Regions from separate parts of the Homo sapiens genome. Here region 1 is linked to region 2. Evidence: fine-mapped expression QTL. A gene starts in region 2. The other region holds a variant in brackets. All regions are shown on one strand. Distances are from middle to middle. Region 1 overlaps RGS6 (regulator of G protein signaling 6). Region 2 holds the start of RGS6 (regulator of G protein signaling 6).

Evidence for each region. PIP is the estimated chance that this variant, and not a neighbour inherited with it, causes the effect.
Region 1: its variant is fine-mapped to the expression of RGS6 in lymphoblastoid cells after a statin (CAP, PIP 0.91). The same link has a PIP of 0.9 or more in lymphoblastoid cells.

What each region holds. Positions count from the first base shown.
Region 1 is chr14:72,490,586-72,495,968 of GRCh38, reverse strand. It overlaps RGS6 (regulator of G protein signaling 6), which reads right to left. Exons shown (of 18, transcript NM_001204424.2): 13 at 707-817. Among named protein-coding and RNA genes, the nearest start is that of MIR7843, 24 kb to the left of the region's middle. The variant TTC/C (reference allele first, on the strand shown) is at 2,466.
Region 2 is chr14:71,929,604-71,934,986 of GRCh38, reverse strand. RGS6 (regulator of G protein signaling 6) reads right to left here and starts at 2,558. Exons shown (of 18, transcript NM_001204424.2): 1 at 2,046-2,558. LOC124903404 (translation initiation factor IF-2-like) reads right to left here and starts at 3,061. Exons shown (of 2, transcript XM_047432046.1): 1 at 2,962-3,061; 2 at 2,097-2,818. The coding sequence starts at 3,061. The coding sequence ends at 2,097. RefSeq lists silencers at 2,310-2,469, 2,490-2,769.

The DNA.
Region 1 (5,383 bases), 560 kb before region 2:
GAAGGCACACCACACTAGCTTTGTCTGTGTGTTTCCTTCTGTAATTCTGAAAGTGGTCCAAGTCCCTCTGGGCTTTGGTTCCTCCCCTCTTAAGTAAACACAGTGGCTTCCCTCACAGGGAAGGAGAAACTGGCTGGAATCGTTGCTGGCAGTTACTCCAGAAGAACAGAGTGATGAAATCATGGTTCTGGAGCCCTCTGCCTGAGTTCTAGTCCTAACTCTGCTGTACTAGCAGTATGACCTTGGGCAAGTTCATTAACTCCTCTGTGCCTCAGTTTCCATAACTGCTGAGTGGTGAGAATAGTAATGTTTACCTGTCGAGGGGATTCAGTGAGAGACACTTACTGCAGGATGTGGCCAATGCAGAATACGTGCCAGCTATTATCATTATTGTTGCTGTCTAACAGGAAAAAAAATTGGAACAACAGATTCTTTTCTTCCAGCAATCAGAACTAGGGAATGGTGAGGGACTGTCTCAGTTATCATGGTATCCAAAGGGTCAGAGGGGAGCCACAAAGGATCCATGCACAAATCAAAGCTATAAGGAGGTAGAAACTGTAAGTAGAACTCAGCTGGGAGGCTACTTGAGGGGTTTCTGTTCTAGCGATAAAAAATGTCAAATTAAGATAGAATATAAGGTAATCTCATGATCTCATGGATTTTTGTCTACATTCATCCCACTCCCAAACCTTAAAACATTTTTTACCTCATCTCTATGTCCCACAAAGCAACGTCATCGCTGATCCAAGGGTTGGATGGCTCAGCTGGTGTTATCAAAGGGTCATATTCCACATATTGTTCCGTGTAGGCAATTAAACTGCAGGAGGGAGGCAGAGCAAAGAATGCCACTGATTTCCTTAGAAAACCCCTTTATTCTGTTTTACACAAACATTATAGCAGTCTTCACATAATTCTAAATTAAAGGAAAAAATTTATTTCCGCTCCCACTTCTGACACATCAAACTGTTTTCATTTGTCCTTATTTCCTTCTTATAACGAACATACCATTTTTGCACTGTTGCAGCCATGATATATACATGCATTTTATATATCTTTTCCTCACTTGATTCTTTACCTGAACCTTGGTGCATCTCTCCCTGGTTATGCTAGCCTTACTGATACTAATACACTGGTCAAAACTGTTTGTGTTCCACCCTCCCACAAAGACTGATTCTCGAGGCATCTGGAACACACAAAAGACACTACAGCTCCACCAGACTGCCAGCTCAGCATTCCCAACGGAAGGACTTTCTTATGATAAAGACTTTTAAATATCAGCAGACCACAAGGAGTAAACATTTGCATTTTTTTCCAAAAAAGCAACTTTTCTAGTTATAATTATGATCTAATAGATATGTTGATCTTATAGATTGATATAATTTATTTTAGACTAATTTTTATTCTTATCAAAATGTATGTGAATAGTTAGAATAATAAAATAGTACCAAATGATTATATATACTAAAAAAGCAAAAGCAATTATTTTTTCCTCCCATCCCTTCTCAGAGAGGCATCTACTTTCCACCTTATGTTTTTTCTAAAAGCTACCTATATATTTCTAAATTATACGCTTTTATATCTATTCCTGATTTTTTTATTTTAGACAAGAATTTATCTTTCTATTCACCAGTCCTCAACTCCCTCCTTTTCTTACGTGATCCTCCAAATAGATTTGTGTTACAATTTTTGTTAAATCAATGGTCAGTGTAACATTATTAAACTAGATAAAAATTGTTTGCTGTTCAGCTAAATATCATACTACTTTTTCCAAGCAAGTGTTTTAACAAACCTGTAAAACATCTAGCAATCATTTTTTTATACCTTAAACACATCAAATAATTGAGCAGTTCTGTCCTCTTGTTTCCCAGAGATCCTCTTTCCTGAAGTCTTTAGTCTTCTTGCTCGAAACTGGATCATTTGCTCTATAGACTTGATGGAAAATGATCTTTTTGGGACTTCCTTCACTTCTGTGTTGAAAAGCCCATGTTTCCTGGATTCCATGTCTATCTCTTGCTTTTACTCCCTGATTGTGTTGAAGCACATCCTTTAGTAGTTTCGTAATAAAGGATGCATGAGAATCCTTGCAAGTCTAAAAATGCTTTTATCTCCATACTTGACTGATAGTGCTAGACATAGAACACTAGGTGAAAAATCTCTTTCCTTTAGAAATTTGTAGGCATCACTCCATGTTTTTTTTTTTCTGGTATGCAGTGTTACTATTGAGAAGCCTGGATCCATTTTGATTCTCGTTCTTTGGTTCAGTTTCTTTTCTCTCTGTCAACTTAGAATCATCTCTTTATTGCTAGAGTGTTCTGCAATTTCATGATGGCCCTTGCTGGTTGTTGTTATTTACTATGCTGGGCACAGTGTGTGATAGATAAGAAAATAATTATCAGGAATTTTATAGTATTCATCACTAATTTTAAACCCTTTGTTTCCTTTGTTTGCTTGTCCTATATTTTTTT[TTC/C]CAGTTCAATATTGGACATCCTGAATTGTTTATTTTCCCTCCCATTTTTCATCTCCTTGTCTTTTTGTTAAACTCTCTTTTAACTATTTATTTATTTTTTAATTTTGAGCCATTACTTTCTAAGTTTCAGAGTTCACTTTTGGTTATCATAGTGTCTAGTTCTTGTTTTATGGATGAAATACCTTCTCATTTCTCAGATAATATGAGTTCTATACTTTTATTGTAAGTTTCTTCCAGTTGTTGAATTATTTTGGTTCTTCCAAGTTCCTTTTTTCTGTCGGTTTATTTTGATTATACTCTTTCACGCTGAGCCTTCCTGGAGTGTCTGGAAAATCTTTGGACATCCATTTGTACTTAAGACTGAGGTACTGAAACCTGCTTGGCGGCTCAGTGGGCGTGTGGATGGGGCTTGTCACTGATGGGCTTCATTGTCATAGGGAAGTTTACCAGTATTTTAATGGGAGCTCCAAATGAGGGATCTGGAGTCTTTCCTCTGGGGCGTCTATTTTTCCCTAGGGCAGGCATTGGCAAGCTTTTTCTGCAGGGCCTAGATAGTAAATATTTTAGGCTTTGTGGGCCAGATGGTGTCTGTTGCCACTACTCAGCTCTACTGCTGTGGCATAAAAGCAGCCATAGACAGCTTGCAAATGAATGCGTGTGACTGTGTTCTAATAAAACTTTATTTGCAAAAACAGAATGGAGTATGGTTTGGCCCACAGGTTGTACTTTGACAGTCTCTTGCCTGTGGGTATATATGTCTGGCTCCTGGAGGCCTGAGAGCAGGGTCGGGGAGGGGCTGAGGGTCTGTTGGGGCTCAGAACATGATACCCTAAAGTATAGTATGTTGGCATGCTGAGTACTTTGAACTAAAGGAGAATGGAAGGGCCTCAGAAGCCAAGGCTTTCACCTTCTCTCCTGCCCCCGTCTCCCATCCCTTTTTCTCCCCCGACGTAAGTCATAGAAACAAGAATTCTTTTTCGCCAAAGTGGGTCATAGAAACTAGAATGCCTCTCCTGCAAAGCAAGCCACAAAACCTAGAAAGGTCACTCGCTCCCTTCTCCCTTGAAAACCCTCATTCCAGAGAGGTCCTACCTGGGAGGTAGGAATGCTACTCAGAGACACTAAGAAGAATCTGAACAGACAGGCCTTGCTGGGTTTCCTCCCCTCAGTCTGTTACCAGTAGATCACACCCTTTTGTCCAATCACATTTCTACAAGGCTTCCCATTCTTCATGGAACCTAAGCACAAATACAGTTTTCCCTGGGTCTTTGAGTCTTCATTTCTGAAGGCTTCTGTGTCATGTGAAACTGATGAAATAAATGCATTTATGCTTTTCTCTTGTTAACCTCTTTTGTTATAGCAGTGTTGGCCGTAATCCTTATGGTAGATGAGGAAAGGTATCACACTTTCCATCCCTACAGGCCCCACAGTTCAGTGCGTAGAGCTTCCATTAATTCTCTTATTTTCAGGTGGCCTCTTATGAGATCTGATGTGTCTGAGATCTGAGCGTATGTGGCTCAATTTCTCTCAAGAAAAAACTGCCCATCTCCTGCAGTGGTGGTAGGTGGGAAGGATTGTTTCCTAGTAGGGCAGGAGATCTAGGGGTGCAAAGTCTCCTGTGACAGACTTGACCATTCCTCTGCTGTTAGCCCCATGCCTCATTCCTGCTTTCCATGGTCCCTAGTGCCTTCAAGAGCCAAGGCCAGGCTTTGTTGCGAAAACTGGCTCACTTTGTCACATCACTTCTGCCCCCAACATGTAGGTTAGAATGTTCTTTACTCTGTCCCTATGCACTTTCTTTTTTATTAAATTTTGAAATATTTCAGGCATACAGAAATGTATAAAAATTGTAAGATTTTACTTTGATACCTTGTACTCGCTGACCAATTAAAAAAATAAAAAATAACAAATACAGACATAGGGGCCTGTGGTTATGTTCCCCAATTACGTAAACTTTGTATCTTGGACAAATGTGTTGAAATTATTAATAGTTTGTTAACCTTGTGAGTTCATGCCATTTTTGTTCCTTTAGTGACATGTTGCATTTGAGGAAAGGGAGAAGATGAACATATGTCTACAATATTGTCTTGGTTGCATTGAGTGACTTTATTACAATTTACTTAATCGTTTCCTTTTTATTAGACACAGATTTTTTTCTTTTTTAATATACATAGTGCTGTGGTAGAACACCGTTGTTCACACAGATTTTTTTTTTTCATCTTCTGGGTTATTTATTTAGAATGCATATCCATAAGCAGAATTATTTGACCAAAAGGTATGAATATTTTTATGGTTATCGATCCACAATAAAATTTTTCCTTAAGCATTGCCAGCTTGTGTGTCAGCATCTTCTCCCACAACAGCAAAGTCAGAGCCACAATTCCTACTACTGAATTGCAAAGGGCAATAATGGCCAATTAGCTTAATGCTGAACAGGCAGAGAAATTAGTCAGAGGTGCCATCTCATGCTACTGGAAGTGTGATCCATAAACCAGCTGCACTGGCATCACCTGGGAGCCTGTTAGCAATGCAGGATCTCAGGTCCCAGCCCAGGCCTCCTGAGTCAGATTCTGCTTTTTAATAGGATCCCCCAGGTGATTCATATGCACATCCAAGTTTGAGAGAACCATATCTCATTCCTCAATTTTCTGAAACATTCAGGACACAAGATGTTTTATTCATCAAATCAAAATGAAAGAGCCCCTGGTAATTTTGGTTTTGAAGATGGATGTAAATTTTCGGACACCTCAGAGCCTCCTCGCTGTCCCAGGTGTTTATCATGACCCCTGGGGTAGAAGCAGCAGTGGTCCCAGTTGAAAAGCCTTAGTTTGAATTCTTGGTTGAGTCATTTAACTGATCTTTGTCAAGTTCATCATGTTATATAACAGGCTTGTTGAGCACTCAGGACCATTGTGA
Region 2 (5,383 bases):
AGGAAAAATTAATCCCGGTATTGAGATCTCTGACAGCATCCTTTTGAAAAATGTTTATGTGACACACAGCTCCTTATTCCATCCCCTGATATTTAACCCCTGGCACGAAACAGAATGTTCAGCAATTCCTGGCAAAGTCTTAGGAGTTCAGGGGATAAAATGCATGGGAGAAGATGAGAGACATAAGAAATGGAATGATTCTACTTTCACACAAAATTATGTCCCTGTAGACAAAGAGACATCCAAAATTACTGGCAAATTGTCCACAGTAACCTAAATTTATTTTTCTTTCTCAAGAAACGTCTACTTACTTCAAAAACATCTATGTTGCAGATCTTATTCTGCAAGTCAAAAATAAATAAATAATTAAAATGGACTCATTTAAATAAACATTTCTGCCACAAAAGCATTGTCATAATGTTTCACTTGATAAGATGAATTTATTGCTTCAAAGAAAATCTAGTCTTGTTTTACTGAAACTCTCAGCAATATAAATTCAGTGAATGTTAACTGAAATTCCTTAAAGAAAATCAGAAGTAAAGTTAAGATCTGCCAGAATAAATATATAAAAGGAAACACTGGTGGCCTCTCTCCTTCATCACAATACCTCCCAACAGCTGACATTTATAGAACTTGCAGACTCTTTCAGGAAAGGATGAGTTATTGGGAATAGACTCTCTCTACATATATATAGTTTATGGTGCATGAGATCATATTTACAGGACAATTTAGCTTAAGAGTGGTACAATATCAAAGAACTTAGAATTTATCATCTATAGCATGCGAGATTTGGCTTGCAAAGGTTTCTCTCTCAAGAGTCTCACCAAATGTCCCTCAGCCCTCTACTTTCCTTCACAGAGTAGTCCCACCCATTGAAAAAGTGATAAATTAAGAATAAAGAATATACATCTTACAGAAAGTTTCCCACCATAGTCCCAGTTCCCACTCTATGTAATTACCTATTTGCCTATGAAAATTGATATGTAAGAGCCGTGTTGTCAACACATTTAACTAAACCTAACAGTTTCCTTTCAGTCTTAACACTTTTTGACAGACCATACACACACAAACTTGTAGCTCATTCTCTAACTCCATTTTGATACTTACAAGCCCAGTTCTTCCATCTCTCACCCTCCCTGGAAAGAAAGTCCAGTGGAAGTTTTACCTAAACTTGATTATTTTTGCGTTTTTCTTTGGGGTTGTTAAAGGTATTGATCAGAACTCACCTCCCAAGCATTGATAATCCCAAGCCGACGAGACCCCAAATATCTTCAGTTTGTAACATAGAAATGCTACTGGTCTCAATGACAGAGAAGGAAAATAACGTTCCTACTCCGTCAAATTAAGAAACAAAAATGAAATACAGCAGCTTTCATTCTGAACAAAACTAAATTTTCTGGGTCACTTTCCCTGTCTCACTGGGCCACTTCTTTACGCAGCCTGCTGGTGACTGTAAACACGGTCTCTTCACTCCTCACGCAACCAGTTCATTTGTCATCCTCTCCAAGCGAATAGCCACCGCTTCCTTTGCTAGCGCAGTTCCCAAACAACAAACCTCCCCACCCGCCCCTGCCCTCCACACCTCACCGCGGAGACTCGCTTTCTTTTCTTCCAAACCACAAATGGGCGAGCTTGTTCAGGGAAAAAGTTAATGAACGCCTGATTAGAGGCAAAGCTGCCCTACCTGCGATCACAACATCGGAAGACTGGAAGTATCTAAAAGCGCCATCCTCTGCGCTCTCGTCCCCGTCGGTGTGCGCTTCACACCCAGAAACCCAGGAACATGATTTATATGCAGACCTGCACCCATCCCACACAAGTCCACACGCCAGCTTGCCTAACCACTTATGTAAGCTCGTGCTTCCACAGTCCCAAACTGCAGACACACACACACGGGCACCTGTCACGCATCTGAAATGGACAAGCACCCACACCCAGGAGATGAAATCAACACATATTAATGGGGTGGGGAGGGAGGATACTGTTTTAAACCATGTTTTTCCCCCATTTGTTTCTTGCCCATTTTTTATCACAACTACAATTACCTTAGCAACCAAAGAATTGCCTTGACTCTCCCTCTGGCTCCAGAATTTTTCCTAAAGCCAACCTTGCGCCAGGTTCATGATAAAGCTGGAGAAGCCCAGGGAACCGGGGACCGGCAGCCTCTTGGGGGCGGAGGGGAAGTCTAGTCCGTCTCCGCGCCGCTCCCCACAGCCTCGCCTCCTCTTTCCGAGTTTCCGTGGTGGCGAGCGCAGGGGCTCAGCGAGCGAAGAGCGAAGCCCCGGGCCCGCGAGGACGCGCGGCGGGTCGCATGGTGCCGGGACTCGGGGCGCACAGGGTGTCCCCGGCGCGCTCCGGGCTGGCCTGGCTCTCCGCGCTCCCAGGCGTTCGCCGCTTGCCCGCCTCTGCCCGCCCCGGTCGGCAAGGGTGCGCGGAGGTCTGTCCGTTCCCTCGGCGCCTGGCGGCTCCGGCGGCTGTAGGAACGCGGCGCCCAGGCGGAGCTCTCGCCGCCGAGCAGGGCCGAGCGCGAGGAGCTGCCCCAACTCGCGAAGCCGTTCAGCTCCGCGGCCCGCGAGCTGCTGCAGCGGCGCCCGCTGTCGGATGCCGAGCGGAGCTGCAGCCCCGTGCCCCGCGCACCTGGGCGCCGGCACCTGGGCCCCGGCACCTGGGCCCGGACCGCGTGCTGCAGGGAGGGGCCGGCGGGCGGGGACCGGCACCTGAGCGCGTCCCGCGGGCGCCGCCGCACGGCTCACCTGTTCCCAGAGCCGCGGAAGGCGCAGACCGTGATTTGCTCGAGGAGGAGAAAACCTAGAAATGCCTCATCCTCAAGAAGCCGCCGAGAAAACCGAGAGACTGGCTCGACCGGGCGGAGGCTGCTTTCGTCAATTCCAAACTGGCCCGGTCCGGAAACTTCAGCGGCGTCAAGGTTCTCTTAGGGATTCCCGGCCCGGGGTGAGGTGCCCGGCGGCTTCTGAATCTCCCTCACTGACGTGTTGCTGGCGCCCTCTAAATTAAAACGGGACACCGCGACCGTCAGCGATATTGTTCCTAACCTCGTCATTTTTATGTATTCAACATGCACACCACACGCTGCATTTGGAATATTACAGGATGATTCCTATCTGGAACACTACAAAAGAACTTTCGAGAAAAGTAACTCTCAGATATTCTTGGGGGAAGCAGAAAAAAGTCGAAGACAGAAAATGAGAAAGTAACTTGAACTGATGCCTTTCTTTAACGTGGGAGTTTTGAAATGCGATGTGTACTTAGATTCAAAAAGCTGCAGGTGGAAATAGGACAAGATCACTAGTGCTGGACGGTAACCGTGGGATTTGTGTGCAATATCAATGCTATCAATATCAAGAATAAATTTGAGATTTAGTCCTGAATTGTAGTATGTCACCAGAAAAGGGGAAAAATACTTGAAATAAAATACCTAAATGCCTTTAACGATGGATGACCTGGACTCCTCATTCACATGGGTCCAGAAGTTAAAGAGTAAAGTCTCCTTCCCAAATTGTGTCTTTTCCCGCCATTCTACATTGATTAATGGATGTATTCATTCTTTCCTTCAATAGACAAATAGCACCTGCTCTGTGTTAGACCCTCTTCTAACATTAGAAATGGATAATAAAGGAAGCAGTCTCTGCCCTGAAGCCTTCACGTCGAATGGGATAACACACAAGCAGACATGTGTGTTATGGTAGGCTTAGTACACAGAAAGGCGGGGGGTGGGGGGAAACCTGCAACCAAGAGAAACCATACCCAGCCTAGTGAGGAAAATAGAATTGTAACAGATGTCCCAGTTGTTTATTAAAGCTGAAATATAAAATCTTTCTTTCCTCAGGCTCAATACTTGGCTCAAGCCGGTTGTGGAGCTGGCTGTGGCCGTTTGTCACAGTTAAAGAATAGGCTGTACATGGAGCGAAAGGTAGCAACTAGGGAAACTTCCGCTTTGAGGAGCTCTGCTTTTTTTTTTTTTTTTTTTTTTTTTTTTTTTTTTTTTTTTGAGACGTAGTTTCCTTCTTGTTGCCCAGGCTGGAGTGTGGTGGTGCAATCTTCGCTCACTGCAACCTCCGCCTCCCAGGTTCAAGCGATTCTCCTGCCTCAGCCTCCCAAGTAGCTGGGATTACAGGTGCCTGCCAGCTAATTTTTTGTGTGTTTTCAGTAGAGATGGGGTTTCACCATGTTGGCCAAGCTGGTCTCAAATTCCTGACCTCAGATGATCCACCCGCCTTGGCCACCCAAAGTGCTGGGATTACAGACTTGAGCCACCACACCCAGTGGGAACTCTGCATTTCTGAGGCTAGCAGCTCCTTGAGGGCCAAGTACAGCATGAAGGAATAATACTGTGGAAGTATAAACAGCAGGCTCCAGGCTCATCAGAAGAAAGCCTTACTGTGTACTTCTCTTTAAAAAAAAATATGTGAAATCAGATATTTATAGGAATTAGATATGTATTTTCATATTGATACATTTTGTGTATTATATGGGATTCCTGATATATCTATGTAGTATGGTTTCTTATACATAAAATATCTGATTTCATATGTATGTGTATGTATGTGGGGGGTATTTTATATATATATGTATGTAATAGAGACAGGACACATTTTTTGCTGACATGGCCAAGAGATTGGTTTATGTGCTAGGGAATTGAGCAAAGAAGTAAATACATTAAGAAAATTGGAGCCAGTCATCTCACTGCTGGAGAAGGGAATTACCAATACAGAAAGGCAAGAGATCTAGCTATGTGCCTTGAAGTTGGAGATGAAGGTGTAAAATGATTTTGGATCCAAAGAGATTATAGATAGATAGACAGAAAAATATAAGTGTATATGTGTGTGTATATGGTGATATATTTCCTAGGTTTGTCGACTGAGAAGGCCTAAAAGCAATGGCACCCCAGTAGCAATGAACACACCTAACACTCAGACCTTGGTTTCTTAATACCATCCTCCACTGAAAGGAACCACAGTTCCTTGGTATAGTGGATGAAACTAGAATAATTTGTTGTGCAAGGAAATGAGAAAATACTTAAAGAATTATGGAGACATGTCAAAAGAAGACAGAAGTCAGCTTGAAGGGGTTCCTGTTGGCCAAATCTTGAACTATTTAAGGAGTAAAATAGTTAATGACAAATTTAACCCTTTGAGTAAAATAAGAGTCCATGAGTCCATGCTGATAGAAACAGAGAAGGGAACTCTATAGTAGAATGCGACTAATAAATGAAGAAGAAAAGATAGAATTAGAAAACCACCATTTGGCAACCACCATCTTAATAATTGATTCAGGCCAGAATCATCAATAAATGCTAAAATTGGTGGGTAAAAGTTTGATGAGGAACAGGATATTTACATAGTCTCAAAGCATATCTCTAAAA